2 linked regions of the Homo sapiens genome follow. The protein of the gene in region 1 interacts with the protein of each later gene in a biochemical or structural test. Each region holds a gene or a part of one and is shown in the gene's direction. Other genes may lie near its edges.

What was found. Proteins that work in one complex are often made in the same cells at the same time.
Region 2: the proteins of MIA (region 1) and FN1 form a complex in vitro, tested with the Homo sapiens proteins (one study listed by BioGRID).

The regions. Positions count from the first base shown.
Region 1 is NC_000019.10:40,773,494-40,779,200, forward strand, and holds MIA (melanoma-derived growth regulatory protein precursor), read left to right. Parts: upstream 1-2,027; 5' UTR 2,028-2,049; coding exon 2,050-2,176; intron 2,177-2,258; coding exon 2,259-2,392; intron 2,393-3,475; coding exon 3,476-3,586; intron 3,587-3,903; coding exon 3,904-3,927; 3' UTR 3,928-3,997; downstream 3,998-5,707. Other genes in the region: RAB4B (ras-related protein Rab-4B), read left to right, coding at 4,883-4,898. UniProt on the Homo sapiens protein: Elicits growth inhibition on melanoma cells in vitro as well as some other neuroectodermal tumors, including gliomas.
Region 2 is NC_000002.12:215,369,417-215,374,681, reverse strand, and holds part of FN1 (fibronectin isoform 1 precursor), read left to right. Parts: intron 1-1,270; coding exon 1,271-1,360; intron 1,361-2,306; coding exon 2,307-2,773; intron 2,774-4,249; coding exon 4,250-4,388; intron 4,389-5,265. UniProt on the Homo sapiens protein: Fibronectins bind cell surfaces and various compounds including collagen, fibrin, heparin, DNA, and actin. Fibronectins are involved in cell adhesion, cell motility, opsonization, wound healing, and maintenance of cell shape.

The DNA.
Region 1 (5,707 bases):
ATAGTCACAGCTACTTAGGAGGCTGCGGTGGGAGAATAGCTTGAGCCCAGTTGTTCAAGGCTGAGTGAGCTGTGATTGTGGCACTGCACTCTAGTCTGGGTGACAGAGTGAGACCCTGCCTGTAAAAAAAAAAAAATCTTTCAGGCCAGACGCGGTGACTCACTCCTATAATCCCAGCACTTTGGAACGCCGAGGCGGGTGGATCACCTGAGGTGGGGAGTTCGAGACCAGCCTGGCCAACATGGACAAACCCTGTCTCTACTAAAAATACAAAAATAGCCGGGCATGGTGGCACATGCCTGTAATCCCAGCTACTCGGGAGGCTGAGGCAGGAGAATTGCTTGAACTCGGGAGGTGGAGGTTGCAGTGAGCTGAGATTGTACCACTGCAATATGAGACTCCATCTCAAAGAAAAAAAAGAAAAAAAAAAAAAGATAGCATAGCAATGGCTGTGGGCCTGGATACAAGTCTTAGCCTCTCCACTTCTCCACTTCCTGGCTCTGTAAGCCTTAGACAAGTTCCTTAACTCCACACTTCCATTTCCATGTAACAAGGGGTTATAGGCCAGGCATTGGTGGCTCATGCCTGTAATCCCAGTGCTTTGGGAGGCCAAGGCGGGAGGATACTTGGGGACAAGAGTTCAAGACCAGCCCAGGCAGCACAGTAAGACATTGGCTCTAGAAAAATAAAAATAAAAGAAATCATCCAAGAATGGTGACTTGCCTACTATTCTACTCGAGAGGCTGAGAGGGGAGGATTTCTTGAGCCCAGGAGTTTGAGGATGCAGTGAGCTATGATCACATCACTGTACTTCAGCCTGAGCAACAGCAAGATCCTGTCTCAAAAAATTAAATTAGGCTGGGCTTGGTGGCTCATGCCTGTAATCCCAGCACTTTGGAAGGCCATGGTGGGCAGATTGCTTGAGCCCAGGAGTTTGAGACGAGGCTGGGCAACATGACGAAACCCCGGCTCTACCAAAAAATACAAAAAATTAACTGGGCATAATGGTACATGTCTGTGGTCCCAGCTACTCGGTAGGCTGAGGTGGGAGGAATGCTTGAGCCCAGGAAATAGGGGCTACAGTGAACCAGGATCATGCCAGTGCACTCCAACCTGGGCAACAGAGCAAGACTCTACCTCAAAATAATTATTTAAAAAAATGGATTAATTGGGCATAGGTGGCTTGTGCCTGTAGTCCCAGTTACTCAGGAGGCTGAGGTGGGAGGATTGCCTGAGTCTAGGAGGTTGAGGCTGCAGTGAGCCGGGATGGCACCATTGCACTCCACCTGGGCAACAGGGTGAGACCCTGTCTCAAAAAAGAAAAAAAAGGGAGGGGTTATAATCACTCCTCCTGACATGATACAGAGTATCCATTTGAGTTCATAACATAAATATGTACTTGGTGAATGCTCTGTAACTATTGGCTTTTTTATTGTTCCCATTTTACATATAAGGAAGCTGAGGCTTTGTGAGGAGAAATAGCTTAGCCCAGGTCATCCAGTGGGAAGCGTCTGGTGCAGAGGAATAGTGATCATGGTGGGACTTTGCCTAGCCTAAGGTTCAGCATACAATATTCAGTCAGTACTCAAGGGCTGGGCTGTTTCTGGTAATCAAAGGGCTGCCTTGTTCTCCTGCCCCACAGCACAGGAAATTCCAAGGTGGTTTTCTTTACAGGCTCCTCCGCTTCTGTGGCCAGAGGGGACAGCGGAGGAGCCCAGGTACCTAAGCCAACTCAAGAGAAGATGGAATTGAATATTTCAACCACCTTATCTAGGCCTCTGTGATTGTTGAGGAGGGGGCTGTCACTGGGAAAGTTGTGAGCTGCTTTGGACCTTATCTGGGAATTTCCTTGGGCTTACAGCCTTTACCCTATCCTTGAAATGGTTCTGGTTTCATAGCAACTTCTAGGTGGTGTGGGCGAAGTTTGGGACTGGTTTAGGGCGGGGACAAGACCAAGAACACAAGTTTCCTTGTACTACGGGAGAGAGGGAGGGGAGGAAATTGGAGACCCCAGCACCCCCTTGCTCACTCTCTTGCTCACAGTCCACGATGGCCCGGTCCCTGGTGTGCCTTGGTGTCATCATCTTGCTGTCTGCCTTCTCCGGACCTGGTGTCAGGGGTGGTCCTATGCCCAAGCTGGCTGACCGGAAGCTGTGTGCGGACCAGGAGTGCAGCCGTAAGAATGGGGAGGGGAGAATTGGGGGCTTGGGCGTTAGCCTGTGTGGAGGGTGCTGCATTCCCTTCTATTCCTTCCCTAGACCCTATCTCCATGGCTGTGGCCCTTCAGGACTACATGGCCCCCGACTGCCGATTCCTGACCATTCACCGGGGCCAAGTGGTGTATGTCTTCTCCAAGCTGAAGGGCCGTGGGCGGCTCTTCTGGGGAGGCAGCGTGAGTCTTGGGAGAGTGAAAGAGGGAAGGGTACAGAGCTGGGGTAGACTCATTATCCCCATGAAGGGAAGATTTGAGGGGGGTGAACTGAAATAGACATTGTGGGGGGATATTGTTACTTACTTTATTTTATTTGCTTATTATTTTTTAATTTTTTCCGAGACAGAGTCTTGCTCTGTCACCCAGGCTGGAGTGCAATGGCACGATCTCGGCTCACTGTAACCTCCACCTCTTGGGTTTAAGCGATTCTCCTGCCTCAGCCTCCCAAGTACCTGGGATTACAGGCATGCACCACCACACCTGGCTAATTTTTGTATTTTTAGTAGAGACAGGGTTTTACCATATTGGCCAGGCTGGTCTTGAACTCCTGACCTCATGATCTGCCCGCCTTGGCCTCCCGGAGTGCTGGGATTACAGGTGTGAGCCACTGCCCCCCAGCCTATTTTCACTTTATTTACCAATTTTAGGACCTGATATGGTCCCACGTTCTGTTCTAGACACCAAGATACAACAACAAATGATCCTTTTTATTCTAATGGAGGGAAATGAACAAAAAGCAAGGCATAAAAAATAGCAGCAGCCGGGCACAGTAGCTCACACCTGTAATCCCAAGTAAGGCCAAGTTGGGAGGATAGCTTGAGCCCAGGAGTTCGAGACCAGCCTGGGCAACATAGCAAGACCCCCATCTCTATAAAAAAAAATTTAAAATTAACTGGGCTTCATGGCATGTGTCTGTGGTCCCGGCTACTCGGGAGGCTGAGGTGGGAGGATTGCTTGATCCCAGAAGTTGAGGCTGCAGTGAGCCGTGATCATGCTACTGCACCTCAACCTGGGCGACACAATGAGACCCTGTTTCCAAAATAATAATAATAATAAAAGCAAATATGCGCTGCTGTGAGAATTAACAGAGACTTACTTGGGTGTTCAGAAAGGGCCTCTGAACAGGTGGCATTTAAGCTGAGATTCATATGACAAGGATGGAGCAGTTATGTGGAGATCAGGGAGAAGGGAGAATGCAAAGGCCTTCAGCAGGCACAAGCTTGCCATCTTCCCAGACCCTAGCTTTTAACTCCTCTTCCCCAGGTTCAGGGAGATTACTATGGAGATCTGGCTGCTCGCCTGGGCTATTTCCCCAGTAGCATTGTCCGAGAGGACCAGACCCTGAAACCTGGCAAAGTCGATGTGAAGACAGACGTGAGTGTCATGGGGGCTGGCAAGAAATGTGGGGGGAGGACCCTTAGGTTGTGGGGATGGGCAAAAATGCTCCCACACTTGGCTCCCTGGCAGCCTAGGTATGTGCGCTGGGAGAAATTCTTTCCCTGCCTCAATTTTCTCACCAGTAAAATGGGTCCAGTTGGGAGGTGCAAAGATTAGAGGGCTCTAGGCTAATTTGCATAGCACTTGTGTGGCCAGACCTGGGCCCTGCAGCTGCAGCCTTTGCTAAAACCACTAGATCCTTTGTGGTGTGACCGCTGGTTTTCTTTCCACTGTTTCCCCTTTCTCTTTTTCAGAAATGGGATTTCTACTGCCAGTGAGCTCAGCCTACCGCTGGCCCTGCCGTTTCCCCTCCTTGGCTTTATGCAAATACAATCAGCCCAGTGCAAACGGCTCGTCTCCGTGGTCTTTGGGGTGGGGTAGGGTAGGGTGGGGACTGTACAAATGAAATGTTTCTCTAGGTTGCTGAATCTAACCAATTAACCCGCTGCCTGTGGTAACGTCAGTGGTTGCTAGGCAGAGTTTCACTGATGAAAGCCCTGTGCAGTAGGAGCGCTCCTAAGCTTAGGTTTCGGACACAAGCAAAGGAAAACCTAAGCAGCCCAACTAGGGGATTGTAGTGTCCTCTCTAGACCAGTGGGAGGGAGCCAATCGGACTACGCGGAGGATATAAATCGCACAGTAAAGGTTTTCTTGGAAGATTATCTGGAAAGGGAGGTGGGAAGTAACCTGCGCCTATCTGCCCAGTTTTCCTCCTTTTCGCCTTTGAGAACAGTAATCGCTCCCGCCAGCTCAAGATCAGCTCCTCTTCCAGCCTCTTTCTGTCAATCCTGCCCGTGCCCCCTTCTTTGCATTTGTATCCCCTCCCCCAAGTCCGCTCCGATCCAATCCGGAGACTCGACTCTGCCCCCCGTACTCCAGACTAAATCCGTTCCTCGGCTCAGCTAAGCAGCTCTGCACGTCCCTTCCCACTTGCTCAGCCAATCGCTGGGCTCGGCCCCGCCCCTTTGGGCTTGGTCCTTCTCACGCCACCAATCCGCGCCTCTTGTCCCGCCCCCTGCCCGCGAGTCCGCCAATCCCGCCCTTCGGAAAGCGTCGCCTGGTATCCAGCTGCCGGAGCGGGTCGCGCCGGAGGGGGGCGGAGGCGGAAGTGGCGGTGCCGGGCCCGGGGAGTAGGAAGGAGCCGGGGCTGTAGCCGGAGTGGAGCGGCTGCCAGCCGAGGAGCAGGCGCGGCCGCGGCGCCATATTGCGGCCCTCAGCGGCCGCGACCGAGTCATGGCTGAGACCTACGGTGAGGGTGGTGGACGAAGCTGGGGTCCTGGGTCTGGGCCCAGGGAGGATGCGGCCTGTGGGAATGGGCGGGGCTTTGTAGATCAGGGGGCGGGGTCTGGTGTGATGGAGGCAGGACCTAAGTGGATGCTGGGAGGGGTTTAGTGGGTCTGAGGCTGAGCTTAATCGATTTAGGTGGAGCCTGAGGGTCTGGTGCGTGGGTTAAATAGATCTGGGGCGGGATTTGAGGGAGCTGGTCCTGAGGGGTTCAGGGAGGCCCTGAGGGAAGAGGTGGGCCTTAATGGATCTGGGCGGAGCCTGAGTGAAGGGGCGGGGCTGACTGCATGAATGGCAGGAGTCGGGCTTATGGGCTAGAGGGAACACTGAATGGAAGCTCGGGACCCTGGGGCTGATCTGGCTGGAGAGAGCTCTGGAATGGGTTTGGGGATGGGCTGTCCTTGAGTTAGGGGCAGGACTTAGTGGCAAAGGGTGGGACTTATGCATGAGAATGGAGCCGGGTTCTGGGCAGAGGGAGGGAAGGAGAGGTCGGGAAGTGGAAAATCAGTAGGGATGCACCATAGGAGGTGGTGATTGGAGGCAGGGGAAGTGCAGGTTTAGGAGTCAGAGGGAGCCGCATTCACTCAACAAATATAGAAGAGAAGGGAGAAGAGTGCAAAGACCCTGAGGTGAGAACCAGCTTGTCATTTTCAGGGAATAGACTGAAGGTCAGGAGCTATAGTGGAGTGAATGAGTCAGAGGGTGGTAGGAGGTGAAGAGGAACAAGGGCTATATCGTAGTCCTTGTTTAAATAGCTTTCAAGAGACTTTAGCG
Region 2 (5,265 bases), on another chromosome or scaffold:
AGATGAAATATTTAAACTATCTGTATTAGTCTGTTTTCATACTGCTATAAAGAGGTTTAATTGACTCACAGTTCCGCATGGCTGGGGAGGCCTCAGAAAATGTACAATCATGGTGGAAGGAAAAGCAGGCATGTCTTACATGGCAGCAGGAGAGAGAAGCACACAGGAGGAACTTCCAGATACTTACAAAACTATCAGATCTTGTGAGAACTCACTATCATGAGAACAGCCTGGGGGAACCACCCCATGATCCAATCACCTCCTCTCCTCAATACATGGGGATTACAATTCCAGATGAGATTTGGATGCAGACACAGAGCCAAACCATATCAGTCTGTATAGAGTATCACCTGGACTTTAAAATTCCCACAGAACATACAGACATTAGAAGGAGACACTGGCTTTTTAGAATTGGGGGGAACAGGAAAATAGAAGCAGACATGAGAGGAATTGAACTAGACACTTCCCACAGAGGCTGCACAAACACTGGCCAATCTCTCCTACCCTTCACTTGCCTTTAGTTTCACTTTTCATTGATCTGCCACTGAGGACTGCTTGGTTATTAGGCCTAAGTAGATTCATGTATATAATCTGCAGGACTCTCTTTCAAATTTATATTCCAGTGGTGGTATATGATGCTGATAGATTTTCTTAAATTCAAAAAGGCAAATAAGACCACGTTAAAAGAATACCCTGGAAAGGCCAGGCGCGGTGGCTCACGCCTGTAATCCCAGCACTTTGGGAGGCCGAGGCAGGCAGATCACAAGGTCAGGAGATCGAGACCATCCTGGCTAACACGGTGAAACCCCATCTCTACTAAAAATACAAAAACAAAATTAGCCAGGCGTGGTGATGGGTGCCTGTAGTCCCAGCTACTCGGGTGGCTGAGGCAGGAGAATGGCTGAACCTGGGAAGCGGAGCTTGCAGTGAGCCGAGATAGCACCACTGCACTCCAGCCTGGGTGACAGAGCCAGACTCCATCTCAAAAAAAAAAAAAAAAAAAAAAAAAAGAATACCCTGGAAAAGTTAGCCAAAAAATGTCTATTCAGGCGTCAGATATGATAGTAAGATAATTAGTTTGCGATGCGGACTTTATATGCAGGATATTTGGGTGTTTATGGAGGAAAAGTGAAGTCGATTTTACCTTCAAGAGGCCAACAGCCAGCTGGAGAGGAAGTGCCTGCTCCCAGTAGCGTCTGCTGGTGAGACCGACTTCCACTTGACTAGCTGAGCCCATTGACATAATGTGATGGTTCTATTCTCCCTTCAGGCCTGGAACCGGGAACCGAATATACAATTTATGTCATTGCCCTGAAGAATAATCAGAAGAGCGAGCCCCTGATTGGAAGGAAAAAGACAGGTAAGAGTATCTTGCAGGTAACAAGGAGAAAGATAGGACAAAACTAATAACAAATGAGCAATCTTGCAATATGAAAAGGTTCTCCATGTTTTGATGCATTTCTTGTGATTTTTTTTATCTAACAGCATAGTGTATATATTGTATTCTTTAATAGGAGAAATAATTTAACATGCACTGCAGAGTTTGGTTTTATTTTTTTTCTTTACTACAGCCACTCAATATAAAGCCTTGTTATTCACCTTTTAAAAATTCAAACAAGATGTTAAAATGTAAAAGAAGAGCTATCATTGCTCTTCTTTTATACCTTCTGTTGAATTTTAAAATGTTTCCTTTTTTAAAGGAGGGAGAGAAACCTCTCACATTTATCTTTATTTGGTTTCTACAACTTAGAGCTAAATAATGTCTTACTTTTGCATCCAGTTTCAGTTAATTTCAAGAAAATGTGTATTCCTGATATAGGAAAATTTCAAAAATGAACATGTGTGTTTTATCTATTTTTACCATTTCAAACCATGAAAAACTGTTGAGCCAAACCTCTGTAATTCTCATACTTATGACACTGATATGATTAGTCTGGATTCTACTTCCTACAACTTGCTTCTCAAATTTAAAAAAGAAAGAGAGAAAGAGAAAGACTGCACATTTCAGTTCCATTAGGTCTAATTTGAGCAGAGGCAGCTTCTACGGGGCTCAGCGGTTTAAAGCTGTGTGTATGATAAATTCATACTAACACTTTTTTCTTTCTAAACTATAAAGAAACCTTTGAGAAAAATCCTAAAGATTTCTTTCTGGAAAAAGTGTTTTGTGATCTCAGAACTGCTCATTTTCTGGTGGCTTTTATCAAATTGATGAACAGTCATTGTTGCCTGAATCGATTATTATCATTGCTGCTACTTCCTGGAGCTTAATGCGCTTTGCTTTTTTGGCTCTAACCTCTCTCGGCTAGACGAGCTTCCCCAACTGGTAACCCTTCCACACCCCAATCTTCATGGACCAGAGATCTTGGATGTTCCTTCCACAGTTCAAAAGACCCCTTTCGTCACCCACCCTGGGTATGACACTGGAAATGGTATTCAGCTTCCTGGCACTTCTGGTCAGCAACCCAGTGTTGGGCAACAAATGATCTTTGAGGAACATGGTTTTAGGCGGACCACACCGCCCACAACGGCCACCCCCATAAGGCATAGGCCAAGACCATACCCGCCGAATGTAGGTGAGGAAATCCAAATTGGTCACATCCCCAGGGAAGATGTAGACTATCACCTGTACCCACACGGTCCGGGACTCAATCCAAATGCCTCTACAGGACAAGAAGCTCTCTCTCAGACAACCATCTCATGGGCCCCATTCCAGGACACTTCTGAGTACATCATTTCATGTCATCCTGTTGGCACTGATGAAGAACCCTTACAGGTAATTAATTGTTCTCTTCACTTCTCATGGGGCAGCACAGAAAGGAATAAGTTAGGTAACTGAAGTGACCAGCCCTCGAATAAAAAGTGGCTTCATGGCCGGGTGTGATGGCTCACGCCTGTAATCCCAGCACTTTGGGAGGCCGAGGCAGGTGGATCATTTGAGGTTAGGAGTTCAAGACCAGCCTGGCCAACATGGTGAAACCTCGTCTCTTGAAAAAAAAAAAAAAAAAAAAGTGGCTCCACTTTTAGAACCTCTTAGAAGATGGCACATTTAAGCCCTGCTTTTTTTTTTTTTTAAATCCCAATATGGCTCTACTTTGGAGGACATACCAGAGAGTCACTAGCTTTTATTTCATAGAGAAAATGAAACTATTTCTCTTATTCTCACACATTTGAGGTTCCTTTTTGAGTAAGATAGATGATTCTAGAAAAGAAAGATATTCTACCTGAATTTCCATTTGTGTGCAGAAGTCTAAAACACTACCTTTACGATTTGTCCTTGAAGAACCCCACTATCTACAACATATCTAAAGAAAAAAAAAAACAGGCGAAGCTGTGCATAGCAGCTGATAAGTGATTGATTCTCTAAAACGTATATTATTTAATTTGTGTTGACAGTATCCATTTTTTTTTTTCCCCGAGATGGAGTCTTGCTCTATGGCCCTGGCTGGAGTGCAGTGGCGTGATCTCGGCTCACTGCAACCTCTGCCTCCCAGGTTCAAGCAATTCTCCTGCCTCAGCCTCCCAAATAGCTGGGATTACAGGCATGTGCCACCGCACCCAGCTAATTTTTGTATTTTTAGTAGAGACGGGGTTTCACGATGTTGGCCAGGATGGTCTCGATCTCCTGACCTCGTGATCCGCCCGCCTTGGCCTCCCAAAGTGCTGGGACTACAAGCATGAGCCACCCACTACACCCGGCCCACTGACAGTATCAATTTTTATTGTGTTGTTACTTTTAGAAAGTGGCAGAATTTAAAAACTGACAACACTGTAGGAAATTTATGAGCTTAGAAACATGAGTTTGAGGATTTGCCCAACTGTTTTAAGGACTCCACACTGGGGTCAGATGTCACCTGGAGGAGCATGACCGTGTCTCCCATATAGCGCAGTGTCCAGGTTTTATGTGAAGCAAACATGGCCAGGGCTTCCAGAGGGCTTATGCAGACCTGCGACTGAAGCAAGATCAATGGCAGGCCGTCTCTAGTATTGTCGAGGGCTCCTGTTAACTACGGAGCACGTAGGTAGATTGTTGGCAGGAAAATCTGGCAGGAACGATGGCCCCTATCCTTGTTCCATTTCTCTCCTCAGCTGGTTAGGACCACTATACCCTCCCTCTTTTTTTTTTTTTTGTTTTTTGTTTTTTGTCTTCCTTTGCTTTGTTTAAACAGTGAGGGTTATTGGTAAGAGGAGAGCCCGTGTCATTCCTCACTATAATGCTTTCTCTCTGCTTTGGATGTACCGATAATTGCAGTTCAGGGTTCCTGGAACTTCTACCAGTGCCACTCTGACAGGCCTCACCAGAGGTGCCACCTACAACGTCATAGTGGAGGCACTGAAAGACCAGCAGAGGCATAAGGTTCGGGAAGAGGTTGTTACCGTGGGCAACTCTGGTATGTAAACACGTACTATTTAGACACAGGCTCCCCTCTGCTGTACACCAGAGATGGGCTTTTCTGTTGACTGTACCTTTGTTGCCATTGTCTTTTTATCTTTGGGATTTAATGCAACACATCAACATGAAATAAATGAGCAACTTTATATTAAATTAATCTCTCCCCCACCTCCTGCCATATCCTGTTGTCTTCACAAAATGCATACGTAATTGACAGACTCTCAAATGGTGATATGATTATAGATCTGGAAGGGATTTCAAATATTATTTAGTACAACACTCTGAGTCCTTACTTCTGAGTATCTGAGTTGATATAGGGCACAGGTTTCCTGATGTCTTTTCCCAGACCCTCTCCATCTCACCATGCTGCTGTCCTCTTGAGTGATTAAATACTGAAACGATTACCTATAAAGAAAATACCCCTTCTGCAGACATGGGGACAGTTGGCTTTTGCTCCTGATATAAAATGCTACCAACATTGTGCATTTCTGTCTGCAGAGAATGTTATTCCAATGTTATTTCCATTTTTTTCCAATGTTATTTCCATTTTTTTTTCTGACTATACAGGTTAAAAGCTTCTATAGAGGTTAAAAGATCATTAACTCTTCTTTGTAGCACCTGGGAAATCCTTTTAAATCAATAGCGTGCCACCTGGCTGCTCAATTTGCAGCAGCTGAAAATTCACCAAGGCACATGAGATAGGGGATAATCAAAACCGTGAATCCCCAATCTTCCAACAGGAGAGTTCTCTACTCCACACCAACAGAGAGTGCTAAGTCCTGTCTATGCCAAGTGACAGATTTTATTCCTAAGGCCAGTTGTTTAATTTTAGCCCCTTCCCTCATCTGATAGAAGACTGTGCTACTTTACATGTA